Linked DNA regions of Homo sapiens: region 2 is linked to region 1. The links come from fine-mapping of genetic effects on gene expression. Tissue or cell type: prefrontal cortex. Region 1 holds a variant in brackets; the other region holds the start of a gene. All regions are shown on one strand. Distances are between the middles of the regions.

Region 1 (8,101 bases):
GGCAGCACAGGCCAATTGCAAAGATTCCCTTTGCTGAGCTCTGCGGCCCTCCTGTTATGAGGCCTGGTGCACAGCAGCCATTTGCCAAGTGGAGGCTGTATTTCTTCCAGAAAGCCGTCTTTCCTAAACTCCTTTCTGCCTATGTCAGTTGGAAAGGTGGCTCCCTCTCTAACTCCCCTTCCCCTGTGGTGAGCTCCTCCAAGCACATATAGTAGGTGCTCGATGCTTGCTGGCAGAATCAATGAATGGGCAGGGCATCATAGCCAAGACAGTGGAGGGCAACAGGAAGAGAAGAGTTCAGATTTCAAGGGGAAGCCGAGAGTAAAACCCTGTGCTGTCCTGGGAGACACATTCATAGGCATTTCATTCTGGAACTCTACCTGAGGCATCCAGGAGCCTGCCTGGGGGCCTCTGCCTCAATATTGCTGCATCTGCCCACACAGTCTTCTAGGTCCTGTGTGTCTGCTAAGGGATGCTAACTTGACTGTTCGCAGAGCGGAGAAAGGCACGATCACCCAGAAAGCCCACACAGTAAAGACAGAGCCACAGTGTAAGCACTGGCTCAGCCTGTTGCTTCTGAGCCCCCATCCTGTGCAGGACCCCACTCTCTGTGTGTCAGAGAGGAAACACAGGGATGAATCCCATGGGCATCACCTCCCCCCAGTTCATGCTCCAGATGCAGGGCTTGGGAAGAGACACTGCAGAATCAGGCTTTGCAGTGAGCTGCTGTTTCCCTTGCTAGAAATGGTTTCTTTGGGTGATGATTGAATGGCGATGGTCTTCAGGGCTGTTCCGTTCAGTTGTGTAGTTGCATTGGGCCAAATGTGCCCAGCTAGGAGGCAAATTGGACCTGAAATCCAGCTCATGCCACTTTTGCCACACCATGCCAGGGGTTGCTGCTGCCCAGGGGGGCACCTTCTGTAATCTACACAAAGGCACAGCACGTGGGCAGTGCTGAGCTTGCTTCCTTCCGGTGCATCCGATGCCGGTGAGCAAGAAGGCAAGGTGCAGTGTGCAGCCCCTTGGTGGGACCCCAAACTGCTGCAGGGGAAGTAGCAGGGGCAGAGAGATGGGCGGCCAACCCACCTGCACAGGGCCTCTTACCTCCCCATTCCCTCTCATCCCAGCCCTGGGGCATGCTTGGAGGTTGGCAGAGCCTTGCAGGAACTGACTCTGGAGATTCTCAGAAGGAAAAGCAGGAGAGGGAGTTTCCAGAGATTGGCGGGGAACTGAGGGGAGATCCCTGTGACTGAAGCCTGCTTAGCAACATGGGAATCTCCTGCCATCACAGGATGCCAAAAGGGTGCGAGGCAAGAGAGACAAAAGGTAAAGTAACAAAGGCACCTGATCAAAGCCAGGGGCTGGGTGTCCCTGGCTCCACTTTACACAGGAATCAACTGAGGCTCACTGGGTGAGGCTGCTTGACCCCTACCACTCTACTAGTCAGTGGCTGGGCCACACTTTAGACCCCGGCCTGCCTGGCTCCCCACAGCAGCTGCCGCCTCTGCATGGACACCACCCCAGCCTGGCGCTGGGTGCAGTTGTGCGGGGGAAGCTGCAGCCTGGGCAGGTTGGGCTCTTGTGTTGCTCCCAGAGCAGCTGACCTCATCCCATCTGGGTGTGTGGGGAAGGCAGCAGGTGTGGTGCTGGGAGGGACAGGAGCCCGTGTTCAACATGTCTGGAGAAATCAGTGACAACAGAAATGGCACGCGATTTCCGTATGGAGAGCAAAGCCACCGAGGGGTTTCTCCGGAAAAGTCAGGGGGATGGCATCGATTGCTCAAGGAGGATTTAGCAATAGGATGGAAGGAAGCCTACACGCTGGCGTCAGGAGCACGCTCAACCAGCACAAGAAGCGCACCCAGGCGGCAGGAGCCACAGCCGCCTCCAGGTGTCCGTGATGCGCCTTCAGCGGGCGCCGCAGCTCTAGCTGCGCGTTAGGGTCCCCGGAGAAGTTACAAAGCGAGCGCATAGGCTTGGGCCCTATTCAATGGTTCTGCCTTAATTGCTCTGGGGAGACCCCGGCAGGGGCATGTTTTTGAGTTTCAGGACTCTGCTGTGTAGCTGTGATGGAGAATCTTTCTCTGTGGGCTCATGACGCCCACCCAGGTCTGCTCCCCACCCCGTCCCATGAAGTCTTCTGCCTCCAGGGTGGCAGCAGGTCGACCAGGGGCCATGTGAGCTGGAGCAGGCCGATCCTCACCTGGGTCTAGAGAGGCGATCTGGCCAGGTGACCCGTGAGGCTCCTCCCTGGGGCAAAATCTTCGTGAAGGGTGGGCCGGAGAAGACGTGAAGGCAGGTGGGACGCACCCACTTCCCAGCCCTGAGGGACTGGAGACTGGTGTCTCAGCCAGCTCGGGCTGCCGTAGCAAAACACCACAGAATGGGAGGCTTAAGTAACAGCTTGATTTTTCTCACAGCTCTGGAAGCTGGAAGCCCCAAATCAAGGCGTCGGCAGGGCTGGTTTCTCTGAGACCATCCTGGGCTTGCAGACGGCCGCCCTCTCTCCATATCCACATGTGATCCTTCCTCTGTGCCTGTCTGTGTCCTAATCTCTTTTTCTTGTAAGGACACGAGTCAGATCATGTTAGGGACCACCCTAACGACCCCAATTTAACCTAACTGCCTCTTTAAAGGCCCTGTCTCCAAATAGTCACATTCTGAGGAATGGGTTTAGGGCCTCAGTGCATGAATTCGGGAGAAACACAATTCAGCCCCTAACAGCTGTGCTGGAGGCTTGATGAGACGGCCCTGCCTAATCTAACTTCAGGACAGCAAGCACACACCTGTATGCTCACACTCTCACACACACCTGCATGCTCACACACACACACGCCTGCATACTCACACACCCACACCCACACACTCACACACATTGACACGCACACACACTCTCACACACACATTCACACACACATACACACGCACACTCACACACACGACACACACTCACACACATTCACACACATAAGCACACTCACATTGACACACATTCACACACTCACACATACACACACACATACACATACACACATATACACACTCACTCACACACATTGACACACACACTCATACACATTCACACACACTCACACACACTCACATTGACACACTCATACAAATTCACACACTCACACACACGTACACACACACATTGACACACACACACATTCACACACTCTCACACACACTCTCACATCACATTGATCTAGGGATTTCCTCAGGTTGAAACGGGCCTGACCATCTGCAAATGGGCAGGTAAGTCCAAATGCAGAACTGATCTTCACTTAGGGCTTCAGACAAAATCTCAATTGATGTAAAAGCCCATTAACCGCCCCCCTCAAAGTAAAACAACAGCAACAACAACAAAAGGTGTTTCGAATTAGTTTTTGAAACTAAAAGTATTTCAAGAAATTCACTCCATGAATGAGTCATGACATGGCATAGTGGGAAGAACAACTTCCTGGGGCCAAGAAAACCTGAGCTGAAAGTCAGTAGTGCCTGTGAGCAGCCCCTGGACCTGGGGCAACTCACTGACCTCTCTGAGCCCAGCTTCTTAGGGGCTTGTGAGCATCGTCCCCTGCCAGGGCCTCTGCACACCGCCTGGTCTGGAACAGGGACACCTTGGGTGCTCCTCCCTCCAAGCCTTCCCACCGCCCTGGTGCACAAGGCACCTACAGCTCTGGAGCTCTCAGCTACAGCTGAGGTGCTCTGGGCTCTCCTGCGGGGCCGAGGGGCTTGTGACGCTGGGCCTCTTCCTACAGTCACTCATATCCACGTGGAATGAGGTTTCCAATATCCATAGGCAAATATGATCCACCCACCTGCCTGCCTACCTTCTGAAGTCACCATTTCCCTGACATAATTGCATCTTACAGATCTTACAGCTGTTTCCTGTGGCCCACTTGATGGTTGGTGGCACCTTGGCATGTCCACCAGGTAGCACCTCATGCTGAACATCACAGCTGGCCCCAGGCAGGCCCTTCCCTTCCTCCTCACTCTGTCTACATCACTGGATCAGGGAAGCTGGCTTCATTCAACCCTTCCTTCTGTAGGTCCTGAAAGGTGAGGTGATGGCTGCTTCTCCACTCCCCACCCCTCTTTGTTGTGTAAGTGTGATTGGTCACACATCACAGAAAACTCATATAGCAGATATTTGCCACGTAACGTAGAATTTGAAAGCACATCTATGCCATAGGAAACGGCTAATTGCCTTGACTCAGGAGTGCCCCCAAGAGCCTGTCTCATTGGGAATCCTTCAGCTGTCCCAAGAGGAAACCATTGCGTTGACTTTTGTGACAGTCATGTACTTGGTTTTAATGATGTTTATCACTTACTTACAAGTTCTTAAGCACCAGAGTTGAGTTGGGCCTCTTTCTGCCCCTGGGATCACTGGGCATGTCCTCGTCAGTGCCTGATTTCTTTTGCTCAGTGTGTTTGGGGGATCCTTCTATTTCATTGCCTGGTCTTCGCTCATTTCCTATTGCAGTTCCGTGCATGGCCCATTACATGAACACAACCATTGTTTTCTCTCTTCCATTGTTTTCTCTCTTCTGCTATTGATGGACTCGGGGTTGCTTCTGATCTTTGGCTCTTAGGAAGGTTGCCCCATAAACATCCTCTTACCTGTCTCCAGGTGCACCTGTGCACAGTGCCTGCCAGAAAAGTACCTGGGGGTGGAACTGAGTTTCTTCACTTTGGCAGGTGCTGCAGACGGTCAGCTTCTCTTCTCACCAGCAGTGGGAGAGCCCCCTGTGCTCCAGCCCTCCCCAGAGCTGGGGATCATCAGACCTGAGAGCCACAGGTCCTCGTCCATGTGTAGCTGACCAGATGTGAGGATGCTCTGCCCATGTTTGGGGACAGCTTCTTTTCCTCTCCCCATCTGGCTCCCCGCTGCTCCCTGTGTGCCCACCCCACCTGCCCCGGTGTTTGGCTGGCCTCCTCTTCCTGCTGAGCCAGTGCCTCTAAGGAGCTGCCAGCAGTGGGGATGCGCCAGGCCTCCTCCAGTTCTCCAGGGCGCAGGCTTTCTGCTGCG[A/G]CCATCCCGGGTCTCATCGAGCTCTGCACCCTGCACCCGCAGCGCTGACCTCACGGAGTCTGCCCCTCTGCTGCAGCTTGCCCTGGCCTCCTGCCTGCCTCTTTCTGATCCTGTCGTCTTTTGCCTCCTTGGCCTCCCTCCTGGCCTTGCTGCTGTCTCCCTTCCTCAGCTTGTCTTTTGGGGAATCTCTAACCTTCCAGAACTCCCTCTGCCCATATGGAGCCCCGATCTGGGCAGCACCACCCCTTTGCAAAACTCCCCTCCGTCCACACCTCCCTGGGGCTTGCAGGCACCATCCAAGGAACAGCAGGACTCACCATCTCAGTGAGCCAGGGCAGGGTAGCCCGGGTCTGAGGCAGCGTGGGATTGGGAGTCTGAGCCATGGCGTGGGCTATGGGACCTGGGCCAGGCAGCAAATGTCTCTAAGCTCTCCTGTTCTCATCCATAAAAGAACATAATTATAAGGATTCAGTGAGAGAATATCCACGGCAGTGTTTGGGAGTGATGTGCTACCTGGCTCAGAAGTCACTGTGAACATCATTGTCCCTTTCTGTAATGTAGCTTTCTGTCATGCATCTAGCTAGTATGTAAGGAGAACCTGGTGCACACAGGCTGTTACTTCACCTTATCTTGTTGTGGAGTGCTCGTAACTGCCCGCCAGGAGGTAGGCACCGTGTTCCTCTCTGCTTTACAGAAGAGGAAACCGAGGCCTAGGAAGGGGGCTGGCCTTGGCTGAGATGTCACCCCTGATGACAGGCAAAGCTGGGAATCTCATCTCTGTGGCCAGACTCCCAGCACCATCATGCACGGCTTTCTGGAGCAAAGGCAGAATGATGAGGAGATCACAGGCACGGAGGCAGGAGTGTGAAAGCATCAGAATATGCCACCCCAAAGGATGCCGCTTTGACATAAGGATTATTTTGAGCTGAAGGCAACTGAGAAACAGCCAGATGCAGAAAAAGCTCTCTACTCCCCATGCTCCCATCTGCCTCAAGGGAGGGCAGAAATTTATCTTTTTTTTTTTTTGAGACAGAGTCTCACTCTGTCACCCAGGCTGGAGTGCAGTGGAGCAATCTTGGCTCACTGCAATTTCAGCCTCCTCGGTTCAAGAGATCCTCATGCCTCAGATCCCCAAGTAGCTGGGATGACAAGCATGCACCACCGCACTCGGCTAATTTTTGTATTTTTAGTAGAGACGGGGTTTCGCCGTGTTGGCCAGGCTGGTCTTGAACTCCTGACTTCCTCCTTCAACACCTGCCTCGGCCTCCCAAAGTGCTGGGATTACAGGCATGAGCCACGGTGCCTGGCCCAGAAATTCATTTTTGTGAAGGATTCCTCCTCCCCTCTCCTGTACCAGAAAGAAGCCACAACTCATCACCGGAGATGGCACCAACCTGAATAGTCATAACCTTTAACAACCCTTATCTTCCATTATTTCCCCCGTATGTATCCCTTTCCACATTTGCCATCCCTAGAAGCTCAAAACATTTTTCCTTTGTCTTGTCATGTCTCCACAATTTTTTTATTTTTTTTGAAACAGAGTCTTGCTCTGTCACCCAGGCTGGAGTGCAGTGACACGATCTCGACTCACTGCAACCTCCGCCTCCCGGGTTCAAGTGATTCTCCAGCCTCAGCCTCCTGAGTAGCTGGGATTACAGGCATGTGCCACCATGCCCAGATAATTTTTGTATTTTTAGTAGAGATGGGGTTTCACCATGTTGGTCAGGCTTCTCTCAATCTCCTGACCTCGTGATCCTCCCGCCTTGGCCTCCCAAAGTGCTGGGATTACAGACATGAGCCACCATGCTGGCCACATCTCCACAATTTATGGCTCTTTGTTAAGATGTTACACAGGCTCCAAATGCTAACCACCTCAGAGAGTCACATTTCTTTGTGAATGCCCACGCATATGTATATAATTAAATCTGTTCTTTTCTCTTGTTAATTGCCTTTTGTCAGTTTAATTTGCAGGACCTCAGTCACTGAACATAAGAAGGTAGAAGACACATTTTTTTTTCTCCCTCACAAAGCCAGGACCCCTGAGGAGGGTCCCAGGCCCTGCTCATAGCACACCATGCCTAAGAGGGGACCAGCTCCAGGGAACAGCAGGGTAACCCCCCCCATGATATGGAATGCTGTGGGATGTGCCAGGGTGTGGCCCCCAGCCAGGGTGAGCAAGCGGGTCAGCTCCCTCTGGCCCTTGGAGGCCTCAGTATGCCTTGCAGCCCGAGTCCTGCCTGTCCCTCCTTGCAGCCCGAGTCCTGCCTGTCCCTCCTTGCAGCCCGAGTCCTGCCTGTCCCTCCTTGCAGCCCGAGTCCTGCCTGTCCCTCCTTGCAGCCCGAGTCCTGCCTGTCCCTCCTTGCAGCCCTGGCTGCAGAAAGGGTGAACCTGCCTTGAGGGCACTGCCTGCGCCTTCCCAGGGAGCTCCTCTGGCCTCCCCTCTCCATTCGCCCACTCCTCCGTGGTTACGTTTCGTGAAAACAGATGCTTTCCAGGAGAGTCACAGTTCATTAGGGAGATGGAGAGCAGGGATCCCAGGCTGCCACTGTGACCAGAATGGAGAGGCCTTCCCAGCACAGCAATCCCCTGGGCTGGTGCAGTGCCTGGCCCATCAGAGGGGCTGAATGGGCAGGGGCAGGGCAGACAGAGATTGCCCTACAGAGGTGACCTTTTGTTACTAGCTTGAGAGTTGCTTTCCTCTATCTCTTTAGATAAGTTATTTGGTAGATGCTGTTACTGATGTGTGCACTGTGGGCTTCAGCAAAGACAGAAACAGATCCCTGAGAACCCCTGGGAACAGCTGCAGTGGTGAGTGGCCACTCCCAGCAGTCCTCTCTCAGAGGACAGAGGGGCTGCACAGAGGAGGAAAGGAGGGGTGTGGGTGTTTCTCCCCACGCCTTTTGCTTCCAGAGAGAGGCCTCTGGGATGCAGGATCTCCCCAGGTGTTGCTTCTTCAGCTGGGAGCTGTTGACACCCACCAGGGACTGGAAGATCCCTGGACAAAACAAAGGTGAGAAAGAAGCCCTGGAAGGGCCCGGGGGAGAGGGATGTGCCAAGAGAGAAAGA
Region 2 (8,101 bases), 870 kb before region 1:
CATCAGTAGAATTATATACTTTATATTTCAGCCTCACAGGCCTGTAATATTTTCCCTCACTTTTCTGGCTTATTAGGAAACTTTGGGATTAAACTAACAGAAAGAAAAGATCCCAAATTTAAAATGATCTAAAGGAAAAGATTTAGATGAAAAGTAAAATGTCCTTTTAGCATATGACTAATTAGATGCAGAATCTAAAATTTAGGCTTTAAAAATGATTCCAAAATTAAGAGAAACTAACACTGATATAACTGCAGGCACAGTATTGCTATTTCTTGTAAGTTGAGAGTCTGTAGAAGGCGAAATAAATATGCATAGCATTGTTCTATTGACAGTGTTTCAATGATAATGTTTGACACCAGAGTAGGTATTGTGCTGTTTCAGTCAGGCTTCTTATGGTGGCAGAAATCTCAACTTGGTTTAGACAAAGACAGCATTTGTTGGAAGGGTCTTGGAGTATCCCATGACATGAAAGGTAGAATTAAATAGCCAAACCACTAGAAGAGCAATCAGGAGCTCAACCCTCACCAGGAGTATTTCTCCCCATTTCTCGTTCCTGTCTTGCTCTGGTTCTTTATGCTTCTCTTGAATATCTACCTTATTCCACTTATCTGCAGACCGGTTTCTTCCTTCTGTGTGGCAAGAAGCATGGCTGTAGATTCCTGCATCATCTCACAATATGGGTCACTAGAGAGAACAAACTTTTTACCCACATTCCAGAAAGTTCTGGCTGGCTCGCATGGGTCTGGTGTCCACTCCTTGGCTCATCAGGTATGCCAGGTGGAGTCAGCGTGAGCCTGTAAGAGCTCCCCGCTCTCATCTGCACCCTAGTGCCAGGTGGGGTCAGTGTGAGCCTGTAAGAGCTCCCCACTCTCATCTGCACCCTAGTGCCAGGTGGGGTCAGTGTGAGCCTGTAAGAGCTCCCCGCTCTCATTTGCACCCTAGTGCCAGGTGGAGTCACTGTGAGTCTGTAAGAGCTCCCCGCTCTCATTTGCGCCCTAGTGCCAGGTGGAGTCACTGTGAGCCTGTAAGAGCTCCCCGCTCTCATTTGCGCCCTAGTGCCAGGTGGAGTCACTGTGAGTCTGTAAGAGCTCCCCGCTCTCATTTGCGCCCTAGTGCCAGGTGGGGTCAGTGTGAGCCTGTAAGAGCTCCCCGCTCTCATTTGCGCCCTAGTGCCAGGTGGAGTCACTGTGAGCCTGTAAGAGCTCCCCGCTCTCATTTGCGCCCTAGTGCCAGGTGGAGTCACTGTGAGCCTGTAAGAGCTCCCCCCTCTCATTTGCACCCTAGTGCCAGGTGGGGTCAGTGTGAGCCTGTAAGAGCTCCCCCCTCTCATCTGCGCCCTAGTGCCAGGTGGAGTCACTGTGAGCCTGTAAGAGCTCCCCCCTCTCATTTGCACCCTAGTGCCAGGTGGGGTCAGTGTGAGCCTGTAAGAGCTCCCCGCTCTCATTTGCGCCCTAGTGCCAGGTGGAGTCAGTGTGAGCCTGTAAGAGCTCCCCGCTCTCATTTGCACCCTAGTGCCAGGTGGGGTCAGTGTGAGCCTGTAAGAGCTCCCCGCTCTCATTTGCGCCCTAGTGCCAGGTGGGGTCACTGTGAGCCTGTAAGAGCTCCCCGCTCTCATTTGCGCCCTAGTGCCAGGTGCAGTCAGTGTGAGTCTGTAAGAGCTCCCCCCTCTCATCTGCACCCCAGGACCACAAGAGCTGTTCTCTCAGGTGGACAATAGAGAGATGGGATCAGAAGTCATTGCTTCCCTCAAGAAACTTAACTATCAGAGGATGAACCAAATGCTCATTAGATGATATTTAATATTAGTGAAGAAAAACTTGATAAAAACATGTCATGGGACTGCTGACTTAATGTTTGGTAAATTGCTGATTTAAAATACATTTCTTTACCTTTCTTTTCTGCAGTGGTTGGAGAAAAGGAAAAGATAGATAATGCTGTAAACGTGCGAACAAGAGACAACAAAATTCATGGAGAGATTTTAGTAACTTCTGCCATTGATAAACTGAAGAATCTCAGGAAGACACGGACACTCAATGCTGAGGAGGCCTTTTGAAGTCCTTCCCTGATATTTGCTTCTGTGTAACTTTGTTTTGACCCTTAAAAATGTATTTTTCTTAACATGTTAGTACTTCTACGACTTTGGAGCCACTGATGGGTCCACTCATGGCCTCAGCTGAGAAAGGAGACGATGAACGTGTAGCTGACATGCACGAAGTTTAATTTACTCATGTCCACGGGGGACGTTTAGAGGGCACGTGGGAAATTTTCCAGCAATCAATGCCTTGAGAAACTTAAATGGGGAAATATTATTCATCGAGAAAGTGAAACAAAACACTAGGAAATGATTATGAAATGTTAGTGATTTTCAAAAGATGGGCTTCAAATAAAAGTCTGCAGAGTTTTTTTTAAATAGGAGGGAAAATCTTATTTTCTAATATGTCTCAGGTATTTTTATGACTTCTACTAAAATTCACACTGAAACTTTATCTTCTAAACTGGAATCATTACTTAATTTTAACTAACCAACAACCACAAAAGCAGCAGCTACTGCTAAATATTGGATTACTGACAAAGGAATTCAGTTTTGTGGAATCTGGTGTTTGCACTATAGGTTAAGAGTTGCCATTTAAATGTTTCTTATTCATAATTAGGTTTTGTTCCGCTTTAGAAAAAAATAAATTCCCAAATGAATTGCATCAGTGTTTCCAGCGTTTCAGCTGTGGGCTTCTACCACCACTAAGCCGCTCACCTAGAGTTGTTACTTTTTTGATGGGATGACATTCCATGGATTTATGTACTGAAATGGATTTCAGATTTTAAAGAGAGGAATGCTCTACGTGCTCAGAACTGAATTAAAATGGCATTATGTCAATAGAGAATTCAGCTACCAAACAAGAAGTATTGTTTATTTTGCGATATGCTGTGAAATTCAAAAGAAATGTAAGAAATAATCTCTTTTCAATATACTGATCATTTAGTTAACTTCCTGAGGGATGTGAACAGTGAAACAGTTGGCAAACAAAACAATATATATCAGGCTTGTGTAGTAGTATAAGGTGCAGATTGTGTGATATGATTTTTATTATTTATTTTTTGAGACGGAGTCTCGCTCTGTCACCCAGGCTGGAGTGCAGTGGCGCGATCTCGGCTCACTACAACCTCCGCTTCCCGGGTTTAGGCGATTCTCCTGCCTCAGCTTCCCCAGTAGCTGGGACCACAGGCGCGTGCCTCCACGCCTGGCTAATTTTTTTGTATTTTTAGTAGAGACAGGGTTTCACCGTGTTGTTAGCCAGGATGGTTTCGATTTCCTAACCTCGTGATCCGCCCGCCTGGGCCTCCCAAAGTGCTGGGATTACAGACGTGATTCACCGCCCCCGGCCGTGATACGATTTTTAAAGCTAACATTCAGGGCTTATGTGCCGGCACTTTTCCATGTATTTTTTAAAAAGTCATTCAGCAAACATGCACGTGAGGGGGTGGTAGTCAGAAGACCGCGGAATGAACGATCCCGAAGCACGTGGGTGGGAGGAGAGCACCTGTCACCAGCGCTTTCTCCCAGGTGTGCTGTGACAGAAACCGGCAAGGGTCTCCGCAAGCTGGGGCCTGAGCGCGGCTCCCCAGACGGCCGCGACCTTCCCCAGGCAGGGCTGGGCTCTGGACCCTCCCCTCACTTCCCAGCGCCTCGGGCCATCCTGCTTCTCCAGGCCTGAGAGGAACTTTCTGGAAGTGCTGCGTATCTTCAAGAGGCCGGCCAGAAGTGAAAGCCGCGGCAGGCCTGAGCGCCGGCCCCAGGGGAGGGGTCCCTCGGGCCCTCGTCGTCCCGGGGCCGCTTCCCCGACTGTAAATAAGTGTCTTTAGGATGAAACGCCACGCGATAGTGTCCTCGGAACCTTCGCACGAGATCCAGCACACAACATCCGACCACACACTGGGGCGGCCAGCCTCCCGCGTTCGCCCGCCTCTGCTCTTGGTTGCTTCGGGCGCGCATTTCGGTCCACGGATGACCTTTAACAGGTCTCCTGCAGTGGAACCAGGGGTGAGGGCCTCGTCCAAGGGCGTGAGGGGCGCGTGGAAATGGAACAACCTCCCAGGCTCGCATCCTCCTCGGGGACCTCCCAGAAGGCTCAACCGGAAGAAAACCCGCGACCCGCGCGAGGACAGCGAAAGCGCAAACGCCGGCCGCCAGGAGTCGCAGCGCGCCTGCGTCCAGTTCACGCTCCGGCTCCCAGGCGCGCCCCGCCCCCCGGCCCGGAAGTGCGCAGGCGCTGGCAAGATGGCGGGAGGGGTGCTCCCGCTGAGGGGCCTCCGCGCCTTGTGTCGCGTGCTGCTCTTCCTCTCGCAGTTCTGCATTCTGTCGGGCGGTGGTGAGTCAAAGGCTGGGTTCAGCGCCGGGTGGGGCTGAGTGGCAGCAGGGCCCCGGGAGCTGCGAGGAGGCCGGGCCCACGGGCGGACGCTGACGCGGGGAGGAGGCCGAGTGCCGGGCTCCGGGCCGCTTGTCGCTGCATCTGGAGTCTGGCGCCCTGGCCGCCCGGCCCGAGGCCGCCCCTCCGCTCCGGCGACACCGAGCCCGCCATCGCGGCTGCGGAGCCCTGGCACGGAGATGGAGCGCTTGGGGGCTGGGCCGGGGAGGCGGAACTGGAGCGCGATGTCATCCTTCGGTCCCTCGTTGCCGGCTGACCTGAACTGATGTCTACTCTGTTGACGTTTCGTCCCTAAGCTTTGTGTTTTCTGGCTGACCAGCCGTGAGGTTTTCATGAGCAGCTTATTGGCCTGGTGTAGACCCGCCGTGTTAACCACACAAAATAAGGTTTTCTTGTCCCGGGATAACGTGTTTCTCTAATTGTACGATCCTTAAATTTAGAGCAATCGCAGGCGCTGGCTCAGTCAATAAAGGATCCGGGCCCAACACGCACATTCACAGTAGTTCCCAGGGCAGCAGGTACTAGACGTTTTCTATTCTAGTAAATACATGTAGTTATCTCTAGTAGTTTCTCTTTGTTTTTATAAAAATTCCCTTTAGTATACGAAGTCACTTTCCATTTTTGAATATTTATTGTATTTTAGATTATGTGAATTAAGGGTAGATACACAGCCATTTTCAGTAGATAGTCTTCGTATTTATACCTTTTGACGTTTCTGCCTCCTCTCTTTTTCCAATCCCACGCTCATTTGTCACCTTATTTCTATTATTTTTCCACTTCATCCATCAAAATAACCTTCAGTCCGTGCTTCTTTCCCTTCAGCAAATTTCCTCTACTGCTAAAACCCTGTTCCTGATGTTGGAATATTAAAGGCTCCCTCAGGACTGTGGAAATGGAAGGATTACAGCGGGACTGATGGAGACTTGAAATCTAGATCTGGTTTTGCTACTGGGATCTTGAACAAATTATTTATCCTCTTTGGACCTTGGTCCTCATCTTTAAAGCGGTGGGGTTGGTCTGACGACCTAAAGTCATTTCTGCTTTGTGATTCTAAGTGTCCACCTTCCAGCCACATAGTCACGGGATCAAAAAGAGTATTTTGTAGAATTGTTCCTTAATACAGTGAGTAAAGTAGGACCAGTTTTAAACAAGCATTAGTGTGTTTTGCTAGGTGGAGGCTCTGACTATAATTTCATCACTTTAAAGTGACATTACTTCAGTGAATTGAAACTGGCAGAGATATTTTACTGATTCTTATTTGGATGTAAAAAACAGCAGTGCACTTGAATTTTAAACTCAGATTACTTTTTAGAGAAAGCACAAGAGTTCTTAACTCTTGCAGGCTTTTGAAAGCCCTTCTTTTCAGGAATACTTGCAATTTTGATCCTTTCAGTTGGTAAAAATACATTGCACACTCATTAGGTTGGTTGGAAATAAGTTGCAGCTTACTGAAGATGTTATTAAAGTAGAGAACTGTTTTGAACTTTGGTAGCGTAAAACTGTAAATATTATATTAGCAAATGTGGCTTATCGAAGTACCAGTGTGAAATAATGACATTTTAAAGTTGATGCCCTGAGGATGTCAGTGGCTTCATTTCTGAATTAGTGAATTCAGATGAAAAGAACACGGGATTGGAAATGGAGAGATTTGGGTTCTAGTTCCAGTTTTGCCACAGACTTCCTCTGTGATTTTGCAAAACCCTACTGTAAGTTTTTTTTCAACTTACAAAATGATAGTCTTTTTTTTAAGCCCTTAATGTATACCCAGAATTTTCTATACATTATTTGTATATGAGCACCTTTAGTTTTCACGGCCACGTGGGAGGCAGGAATGAAGTAATGTTTTACAAGTGTGGTGCTCACCAGGTCCCACAGCTGGCCGTGGGCAGAATTCTGCTTTAATTGCAGGTGTCTCTGACTCCAGTCCCATGCTTCTTCCCTTCCAGTGCAGTGTCTACTTGCTAATGATCACGTCTCTTAACCTTAGAAGATTGTTCTCTGTTATTCGAATCAGTATTATAGGAGAATAAGCTTCTCTCTTGCCTCTCACAGAAAGTACTGAAATCCCACCTTATGTGATGAAGTGTCCGAGCAATGGTTTGTGTAGCAGGCTTCCTGCAGACTGTATAGACTGCACAACAAATTTCTCCTGTACCTATGGGAAGCCTGTCACTTTTGACTGTGCAGTGAAACCATCTGTTACCTGTGTTGTAAGTACTGCAGCTTACTTATTCTAAATAAATTCATTGTAAACTTTAAGTTAGAAGAACAATTCAGACTTGATTATTGGGAAGAAATTCTGAAGAATTTTTATATTCTTTTATGATTTCCCTTTTGAGTATGTAAGCAGAAATAAATTAAAAAACCCAATAGACCTTTCCATATCAGCTCACTACTGTTTTAGTTATAATGATAACTGTCAAGCCAGTTGATGTCTGCTGGAAATGCACTTGACAGAAATGTTGCTTTGTAGGACTGGAGAAGATCTCAGTCTACTAGCATATCTGAAGCAAGTCTAATTCGTTCAGATGGATTCTGTGTTCTCAATAGTGACAGCTAGTGTACAGAGGGGGTGGCAGTGTCTTTCTGCCATAGATGAGCTTTTGAAGGGCCAGTGCTTATCTGTGGTGAGAAGATGGATTCAGTAAATGCCGGAATGCCTGGTAGCTCTCTAGAACAAAATTAAGTGGAACGCCTGTCTTATCCAGAATAAATTCCAGATAGTCCAAAGATGTAATGTGAAAAATGAAACCCTGAAGTACCACAGAAAACACCAGATAGTTGCTGTTATAATCCCAAAATGGAGAATATTTTTCTAAGTATGAAATAAAGTTTAGAAGCCATAAAATAAAGAATTGATACATTTGACTCCTAAAAATTGGAGATTTCTGCATGACCTAAAAAAAAAAGCATAAAGGCAAAAGACATGGCAAACTAGGAAAAAGCGTTTCTAGAATATGTGACAAATAATACAGTAATATCAGTAATATATAAACACTTCCTAAAACCCACACGGAAAAGATGACAGTCTTGTAGAAAAACAGTGTTAGGACATGAGCAGATGGTTCATAGGAAAGGAAATACAAATAGATATATAACATGAAAAACATATAAGTTTTCTCATAGTATTTAATTAATACATTTTTAACCCTTAGATTGGCAATTTTTTTTTAATTTGATTAACTCTGAGTTTGTGAGAGTATAAGGGTCAGATGCTCATATCTTATTAATAGGTAATCAAATTGATCAACCTCTTGTAGGCGATTTGCCATATCTGTTAAACTTACACATGCACACAATCGTTGAGCTCGTAGTTGTACATGTAGGAATTTATGTTATAGATATCATTATACATGGATGCAGATAAGTGTGCTTATTTTTTAGCTGCATTGCTCATTAAAGCAAAAGATTCAAAAGAAGTGAAATGTCTAAGAACTGCTTAATTTATGGTACACGTGTAATAGAATAAACACCTTGTAGCCATTAAAAAGAACTAGGCAGCTCTAGAGGTAATGTACTGATAGATGTCCAAAATTAAGTGAAAGTATTGGGGAACATTAAATGTAGGTGACATAAATGTGCCTATGTGTAGAATCAGCTCTCTCTGGAAGCACAGAGCGTACTTGGCCTGGGGAGGGCAGGGGCTCCCGGCGGCTGGGCCAGACGAGGCCGGCTCA

Evidence for each region. PIP is the estimated chance that this variant, and not a neighbour inherited with it, causes the effect.
Region 2: TM2D3 starts here. The variant in region 1 is fine-mapped to the expression of TM2D3 in prefrontal cortex (GTEx, PIP above 0.99).

What each region holds. Positions count from the first base shown.
Region 1 is chr15:100,781,223-100,789,323 of GRCh38, reverse strand. The region is part of intron 2 of LOC105371024 (a long non-coding RNA gene); the gene reads right to left. LOC440313 (protein enabled homolog) reads left to right here and starts at 4,839. Exons shown (of 1, transcript XR_001751715.2): 1 at 4,839-5,363. RefSeq lists a silencer at 1,694-1,894 and an enhancer at 6,625-7,254. The variant A/G (reference allele first, on the strand shown) is at 5,036.
Region 2 is chr15:101,648,537-101,656,637 of GRCh38, reverse strand. It overlaps TM2D3 (TM2 domain containing 3), which reads left to right and starts at 4,257. Exons shown (of 6, transcript NM_078474.3): 1 at 4,257-4,367; 2 at 4,865-4,942; 3 at 6,477-6,634. The coding sequence starts at 4,277. TARS3 (threonyl-tRNA synthetase 3) reads left to right here. Exons shown (of 19, transcript NM_152334.3): 19 at 1,908-3,042. The coding sequence ends at 2,056. RefSeq lists enhancers at 2,963-3,853, 3,960-4,019 and silencers at 3,680-3,869, 4,110-4,669.